2 linked regions of the Homo sapiens genome follow. The protein of the gene in region 2 purifies or fractionates together with the protein of the main gene of each other region. This does not show direct contact. Each region holds a gene or a part of one and is shown on either strand. Other genes may lie near its edges. The genes, in order: DYNC1I1 and BICD1.

Evidence for each region.
Region 1: the proteins of BICD1 (region 2) and DYNC1I1 purify together in Homo sapiens (co-immunoprecipitation; one study listed by IntAct). This does not show direct contact.

The regions. Positions count from the first base shown.
Region 1 is NC_000007.14:96,034,548-96,038,377, reverse strand, and holds part of DYNC1I1 (cytoplasmic dynein 1 intermediate chain 1), read right to left. Parts: intron 2,760-3,830; coding exon 2,626-2,759; intron 1-2,625. UniProt on the Homo sapiens protein: Acts as one of several non-catalytic accessory components of the cytoplasmic dynein 1 complex that are thought to be involved in linking dynein to cargos and to adapter proteins that regulate dynein function.
Region 2 is NC_000012.12:32,109,626-32,113,455, forward strand, and holds part of BICD1 (protein bicaudal D homolog 1), read left to right. Parts: intron 1-3,830. UniProt on the Homo sapiens protein: Regulates coat complex coatomer protein I (COPI)-independent Golgi-endoplasmic reticulum transport by recruiting the dynein-dynactin motor complex.

The sequences.
Region 1 (3,830 bases), on a different chromosome or scaffold from region 2:
GGAAGATGTGAGAAAACATACCAAAAATGCTATATTTAAAATATTCATGTGCATGAGGTTATAAATATGACAAATATGTAGGAATTGTAGAATCCTAATATTATGTCACTAAGAATAAAAACGAGCTCAGTTATTAAAACATTTGGGCCTCTGGAGCACCAATAAATGTCAATGTGCTTAGCAAAATTTGGAATCATGAGCAAAGTGTGGCAGTGCGTGTTCCATGTAACAGGCACTCAAAAATTATGCCCAGTGAAACTGCTAAGAGCAGTTCCACACATGATCATTTAAATTTGTTCTAATGAACCCGAGGAACTGATCTTTGAAGTGGCCCCTGGTGAGACTCCACTTGCTCTTAACAGCATCCTGAAAGGATTTATAGGGTGCAAAATGAGGACCTTGTTTAATTTATGGAAGTGGATTTGCACCTTCTCTATGTTAGGTGAAAAATAGCAATCCCCTGCTTCTCCCCCATAGACCTATATGACCCATTTAGAATGACTACAAAGCCAATGCCTGCTACGTTACAATGTTACTAAGGTCTGTATTTTATATTTCAGATGGATGGACCAATGTAAAGCAAAATTCAGCTTGTTGTAAAAAGATTTGTGGTGTGTGCCATAGGGACCCTTCTTTTGAACCAAAGTGCATATTCTGATAGTGCTTAGAAAGTACAGTAGCCACAGAACAAGAATGTTCATCATGTAAAATGTTATTCACTTTATAGCAATGAAAAAAATCTGGAAATTATCAATGAATGTATTCTATAGCCTTCGTAGATAATCAAGGACCTAGGTAAAACCATGGGTTAAGTTAACTGAACCTATGCCATGTTGATTCTAATACGCATATAGATAAAGCTGTGACTCCAGGTCTGGCCTACTATACTCTCTATGCCTCTCATGCCACTTAAGACATTCTACTCATGTTCCAGATATTTGTGTATTTATCTTTCTCACCGTCATCAGTTATTTTGAAGAGAGAAACCAGGTTTACATGACGTCTGCAGGCCTTGCAGAACCTAACAATGCACTTTGCTCAAAGTAGGCATACAACAAATATATTTATGAATGAATAACTTTATCAAATATTTTTATGCTTTGATAAAGCTTTAATGTGTGGTTTTAGCCAGGGTTTATGAAGGAGGATCATTGGGAATGGACTGTGAGGCATATCTTCCTAAGTCATCTTTGAATCATGTGAGGGGACAAATACTGCTTGTTTCTACGTGCAGAACAGCAGGAACATAACAGCTTGTATAGTTTGAATGGAAAAAGTCACATAGCTGAGCCATGGATGCTTGTCATTTCTACAAATCACAAAAACACAGGGATATGAACTTGGAACAATTTGTGGTTCTTCATTAAATCTTAATAGCCTCGGATGAGTGCAAGAGATGAAAAAAAATCAATGGAATAAGAACTACTAAAGTAAAAGACAAATTAAGCACCAGTGTGAACATAGTGACCCTTTCAAAAGACATGAGGCCACCTGTTAAGTTTTGCATGCAATTTTACAATCTAGTCCAAACTATTGGATTCCACTTTATACTGACAACTCTTTTCCAGGGGCATTGTGAATCTCTCAGTTAAGGTAGAGTTCTTATCACCTGGGAACTGCATGGTGGTTTGTGTGACTCACTCTGTTCTGACCCATCTGACTGGGAGGAAAGCTTTTAAGGCACTTCTTTAGATTGGATGGATTACATTATATATCATTTCTTTATCCCCAATATATATTTTTAGCTCCTCACTTACTATGTCCTAGGTACTGTGCAGGAAATCAAAGATGAAATGGAAATAATGTAGTAAGAGAAAAATGGCAGATGAATGAATAAACTAAAATACGATTAATGCTATTATAGAAGCATAAGGAAAATATATGAAATTGTCAACTTGACAGCCTATAGTCCTATCCCACTTATTCTACTTTAATTTTCTCCATTGCACTTACCATCCTAAACTATATATTTATTTGCTTATTAGTATTTTACCCTCAACTAGAATATGAACTCTAGGTCTGTCTTGTTCTTTAATGTATCCTTTTGATGATGCCTGGCACATGGTAGGTTCTTAGTAAATATTCCTTGGAAGAGTGAATGAATAAGAGAATTGAAAATTCTATGGGACTTAAAGGTGGGAGTGGTTTTCTTTGCCCAAGAGTCAGAAAATGTTTCACATGGAATGATCTCTGTGCTGGCTCTTGAATGATGAGGAGGAATTAACCAGGCCAAAAAGGGAGAAATGCTAGAACTGGTAAAAGAAGTTGAGTATGCAAACTCATTGAGGCATGGAGGGATAAGAAATATTTGGGGATTGTTATCTCTGATGGGCACATGGCTAGACCCTGAAGGTATGCGGAGATGCTGGGAAGGTGCAAGTGGTCTGTTATGATAGGCTCAGAAGCTCGAGCTTTTTTCCCTCAAGGCAGTGTGAACCACCACAGTCTTATGAACAGCTAATGACCAGAGCAGATGCAGCTCTTTAAGATAATGAAGAGTTGAAGTCGTGCTTTCCATTTTTCCAGAGATGCTTTCTCATAATGCAAGGTGGTTAAAATCCAGAATGTGATAACAGACTTTCGGAAATGAAGAACATGTCATCAGTAAAGAAACAGAAAAATCACCTTCCATGACGACAAGCCGTGTAGACTGTACCTTCCTCACTGCCAACCACGAAGTTATTGACGTCTCCCGTTGGGAAAGCCATTCCGGTAACAGCGACAGGCTTGGACTTATTGTACACCAGCTCCATGCTCTCCTACCAAAACACGGTGTGGTTACATTTCCATCTGTCAACTCCTTGCCATGCCAAAGATAGCACGGAAAAATCATTTGGCTAAATCATGTGTTTGCTTTTCACACAGCGTTACAAAAGACCCCGGCTGTGCCAGAAACCATGCTTTACTGCCCCTGACATTCATGCTTCTGTGGATCTCTGGTTTCAAGCCGGCTGGATTTCATCAGCATGTGCTGCTGCTTCTTAAGTCAGGCAAAGATGACAGGTGAGAATTTTGAAACTAATGGTGCAGAAACTAAAGATAATAATGGTTACACTTGTCAGCTCCAAGCTTTAATAAAACACACAATACCCTTGTATTTACAAACATTTTCAAAATCAATTGTTTGTGAGAATACACATGTATTAATATCAGATGTACTAAGCAAATTTGTCAAAGCAGGAGTATGTGTCCTCCATGGACTAAAACCAGAAAGTTGTCACTCAGGTCATAAAAACCAGATTTCAACAGGGACTAGATTTCATGCAGGGCAGCCATTGGGTGAATAGGCTATAAGCCTGAAAAGAACAATATTTAAATACGTCTTTAAAATAGCAAATGGGAGTCTTTATTTTATAATATGATTTTTTAAAATTGAGAATTAAAGATTCCTAATCTTAAAAGATATACTGCTGAGTTAAGTTTAATGACAGAAAAGAATAATCAATTATAACTAATATCCCTGAGTATTTCTGGCTATTTACATCAAATAGCCTATTTTGTGCATCTGAAATAATTTTTAAAAAATCATTCTGAGGTATCATATCATTATAGTTGCTTGAGAGTTTAGTCTTTCTTGTGCAAATAAACTATTTCAGCCAAGGAGTCCATTAAATTGAAAGTGCAAGCTAACAGTCTAAGCAACACAGACTGATTCTGATCCTGTGATGTGTTCAAAGTTTGTGATATCCACACATAGGGTGCACATCAGCAACTGGGATAAAGGAGAGGATGCTGTGACTATGTCATACAGATAACTGGATCATCCAATGATCTGCTTCATCACTAAAATTAGCAGCAAGGAAGGAAAAGTCCCTTTACCCATTTGGGAG
Region 2 (3,830 bases):
TTCAGTTGCATTTAGCATAAGTGAAATTCGAGATTCCTAAAAAACTGGTTTATACAGTTATATAAAAATGTATTTTAGGTAATAAAATTATTATAGTTGATTATTTGATAGTGAGGCCTATTATTTTTATTCTTTAAACATAGAATATACTTTAGTTGGAAATATAACTTAAATGAGTTAAATTGATTTCAAGTAACATTTCTTGTATGAAAAGTAAATCCAAAATAATTGTGCAAACTGAGGTGTTCCAACACCTCAGTTTTGAAAAATATTTTGTGAGTGTTTTGATTTTTCAAAAGAAAGTTTTGCTCATCAGGTATGTATAGTAAATGATGTTGCATTATATCTATAAAGCCAAGCATAAAATAAATCTTTGCTTATTTCTAGGATTTTTGAACAAATATGATTTATTTAAAAATAATTGAACCAGTTTATGGGAATGTCAACAGAAAACTACTGTATTAAGTCCAAATTGGACATTAGTAATTTGCAGTATAGCAACATGGCTCAGTCTTTGCAGATCATTTTGTTTTCCAGAGTCAGTACCCACCAATGTTGCTACCTTCCTTCCCAGGCTAGGTACTGCTGTGACAATAATGCAAGTCGGCAGTGTTGCCTAAAGATGTGCAAAATCAAGAAGATGAAATTCATTAAATTTTTTTCCTAGTTATTTCTTCCCTCAACTCAATTGTTTTTTGACCTGGCCTGATGTTGTTTAGTGCTCTGCATGGACTACTGTAATTCAGCTCACAGAAGAACACACTTGAAAGAATAGTACTAAGGATTTGAAAAAAGGATGACTTCTGACATCATCAAAGTGTTCTCCTTTTCATGATTCTTTGGGCAGCTGGACAGAGCAGTATGTCCACTAGAATACTTGAGTCTGGTTTTGTGATTTCACAAGTAACACTTGCTCTTCAGTGACCTGAGTGAGGGTCACCCATGCCCAGTTATGTTCAGGGCCTGGCTGATTATATGTTTGGGATGTACGTAAATCAGCACTGTGCGCCTGTCACCCAGGCCAGAATAGTGTTTGAAGAAGAGTCATAGCTCCAAAATAACCTGAAAACTAAAAATATACATATATAAAAATACCTTGGATCTAAACTTAAGAGTTTTTTTTACACCGCATGTTCTCACTCATAGATGGGAATTGAACAATGAGAACACATGGACACAGGAAGGGGAACATCACACTCTGGGGACTGTTGTGGGGTGGGGGGAGGGGGGATGGATAGCATTAGGAGATATACCTAATGCTAAATGACGAGTTAATGGGTGCAGCACACCAGCATGGCACATGTATACATATGTAACTAATCTGCACGTTGTGCACATGTACCCTAAAACTTAAAGTATAATAATAAAAAAAAAGAGTTTTTTTTTAACTTAAAAATGGTTGAAATTTAAAATGTTGTAAAGTTGAAAAAGAGCCCCTTAGAAAGGAATGATTCAGCATTACTGATGGCATTTTAAAAAGGAAATGTATCTGTGAGACAGCTTTAGAAAAGTTTTGCAGCTTGGATACCGTAAACTATGCACTAATGAGCTTCAACCCATTTTCTTGCTTATTTTGTCAACCCTGACACCAAGGATAGTTACCAGCTGCTGAAGAAGCACTTTCTGGACATTGGGCAGCTTTTTCTTTTGGAGCCAACTCTATTCTTTTTCAGGGTTATAGTTAAATCATTCAACACAAAAATATGTACTTACACAGTTTTAGAGCTTGTCACATTGGTGACCTGATGAATGCCACTTAAATTACCTAGATTCATCTTTAAGCAGAATTGTTTTCCCTTCAGATGCTTAGAAAGATTGTTAGTTTCTTTTATATCTTTAAGTTCTAAATCACAAAATCATATGGCAAGAAAAACCCCAGATTTCTTTTCCAATCTATGAATAAACATAAAGAGACAGTTAATACTTAATTGATCTATCTGAACTATGATTTTTAACTTCTCTCATTGTTTTTATTTTTTTATTTTATTTTATTTTATTTTGAGATGGAGTCTCGCACTTTCACCCAGCCTGGAGTGCGGTGGTGTGATCTCGGCTCACTGCAAGCTCCACCTCCCGGGTTCACGCCATTCTCCTGCCTCAGCCTCCGGAGTAGCTGAGACTACACGCATTCACCACCACACCTGGCTAATTTTTCGTATTTTTAGTAGAGATGGGCTTTCACCTTGTTAGCCAGGATGGTCTCGATGTTTTTAAAGAAAAAATATTTACATTTATTATCAAATTAATCTTAAAATCTAAAATACATTAAGATATGCTTTTGGAAACTGTTTACAAACAACCTCAACAAATAAACATCATCGCTTTCAATCACATTTCTTTTTTTCTGGACCCAGTTGCTCTAACTTGCACTATCCCTTTTTTTTTTTTTTTTTTTTTTGAGATGGAGTTTCACTCTTGTTGCCCAGGCTGGAGTGCAATGGTGTGATCTCGGCTCACCGCAAATTCTGCCTCTTGGGTTCAAGTGATTCTTCTGCTTCAGCCTCCCGAGTAGCTAGGATTACAGGCATGCGCCACCACACCTGGCCAGTTTTGTATTTTTAGTAGAGATAGCGTTTCTTCATGTTGGTGAGGTTGGTCTTGAACTCCCGACCTCAGGTGATCCGCCTGCCTCAGCCTCCCAAAGTGCTGGGATTACAGGCGTGAGCCCCCACGCCCAGCCCCTTCTTTTTATTTGAAATCAAGATTTCGTCTCTGGCGAAGTTATTTCTCAGATATAACTTAGCAAGAATTTATCATCTTTTATCACATTCCCCATGTTTATGTGAACATGTATGACAGCGATGGTTTGAAGGTTTCTTCAGAACTTTCTGCTTGCAAATATTTTGCCCTATCATCCCCTTAAATATAGTTGTACTCATGGATATTGCTTTCCAAATTTGAAAATACGGTAATTAATTACTTGCATGTTGAAATATACATAAAGGACTTGCCCACACATAAGATTCCACCTGTAATTATGGCTTTGAGGAGAGGAGGGCATGAAGGGCTGCATAGTCTTAGTATTAAATAATTCATTACGCTAAAGGAGAATGCACGTAAAGTCAAGTGGCAGGAGATGCAATTGTGAAAGGGCCATGGCCACATTTTGTCTTGGGGATGTGGAGCCATTGAAAATAAATGAAACAGTCACTGTGTTTAATCTCACCAGTCTTCAAAACAATTCAGAGGGCTTACTGCTCATTTTTACTGATAAGAAGATAATAAAAATAATAAAGCATTGACTTAGGTACAAGGCTCCATTTAGAACTAGGTTCTTTACAAGCCTCACCTCTAATTCATGCAGCAATCCTTACTCAAGGTAGGTGTTTCTTGCATTATACAGAAGAGGAAACTGGGTCTTAGAGAGGTTTAGGTCTCTTCCCAGGGCCACAAAACTAAACGATGAAACTTGGAAGAAGCCCACTTTTTTTTCACTGCATCATACTACCTTGAATATGAAATATCTCTGCCAAGTCTACAAGTGCAGTATAGAAGGTTATGGTGATGGTCATAGTGGGTGGATTGAGGCTGTGTGGTGGGACAGACAGTGGCAGTAGGGATCGTGAGGAGGGGGCACGTCTAAGAGCTATTTGGGAGGTAGGGTGGAACAGGCATTGGATGTTACTATATGTGGAAAGTGAGGAAGACAGTGGAGCTGAGAATCTTCTCAGGCTGGATAGGAGGTGGTTCTATTTACAAAGGAAGGTATTATGGGGCAGAGCAGTTTTAGAGGGTGAAATTGATGCTCAAGTTACATGAGTTTCTGTTGTTTTTGACACAGGGTTTCTCTCTGTCACCCAGGCTGGAGTGCAGTGGTGCTGTTACAGCTC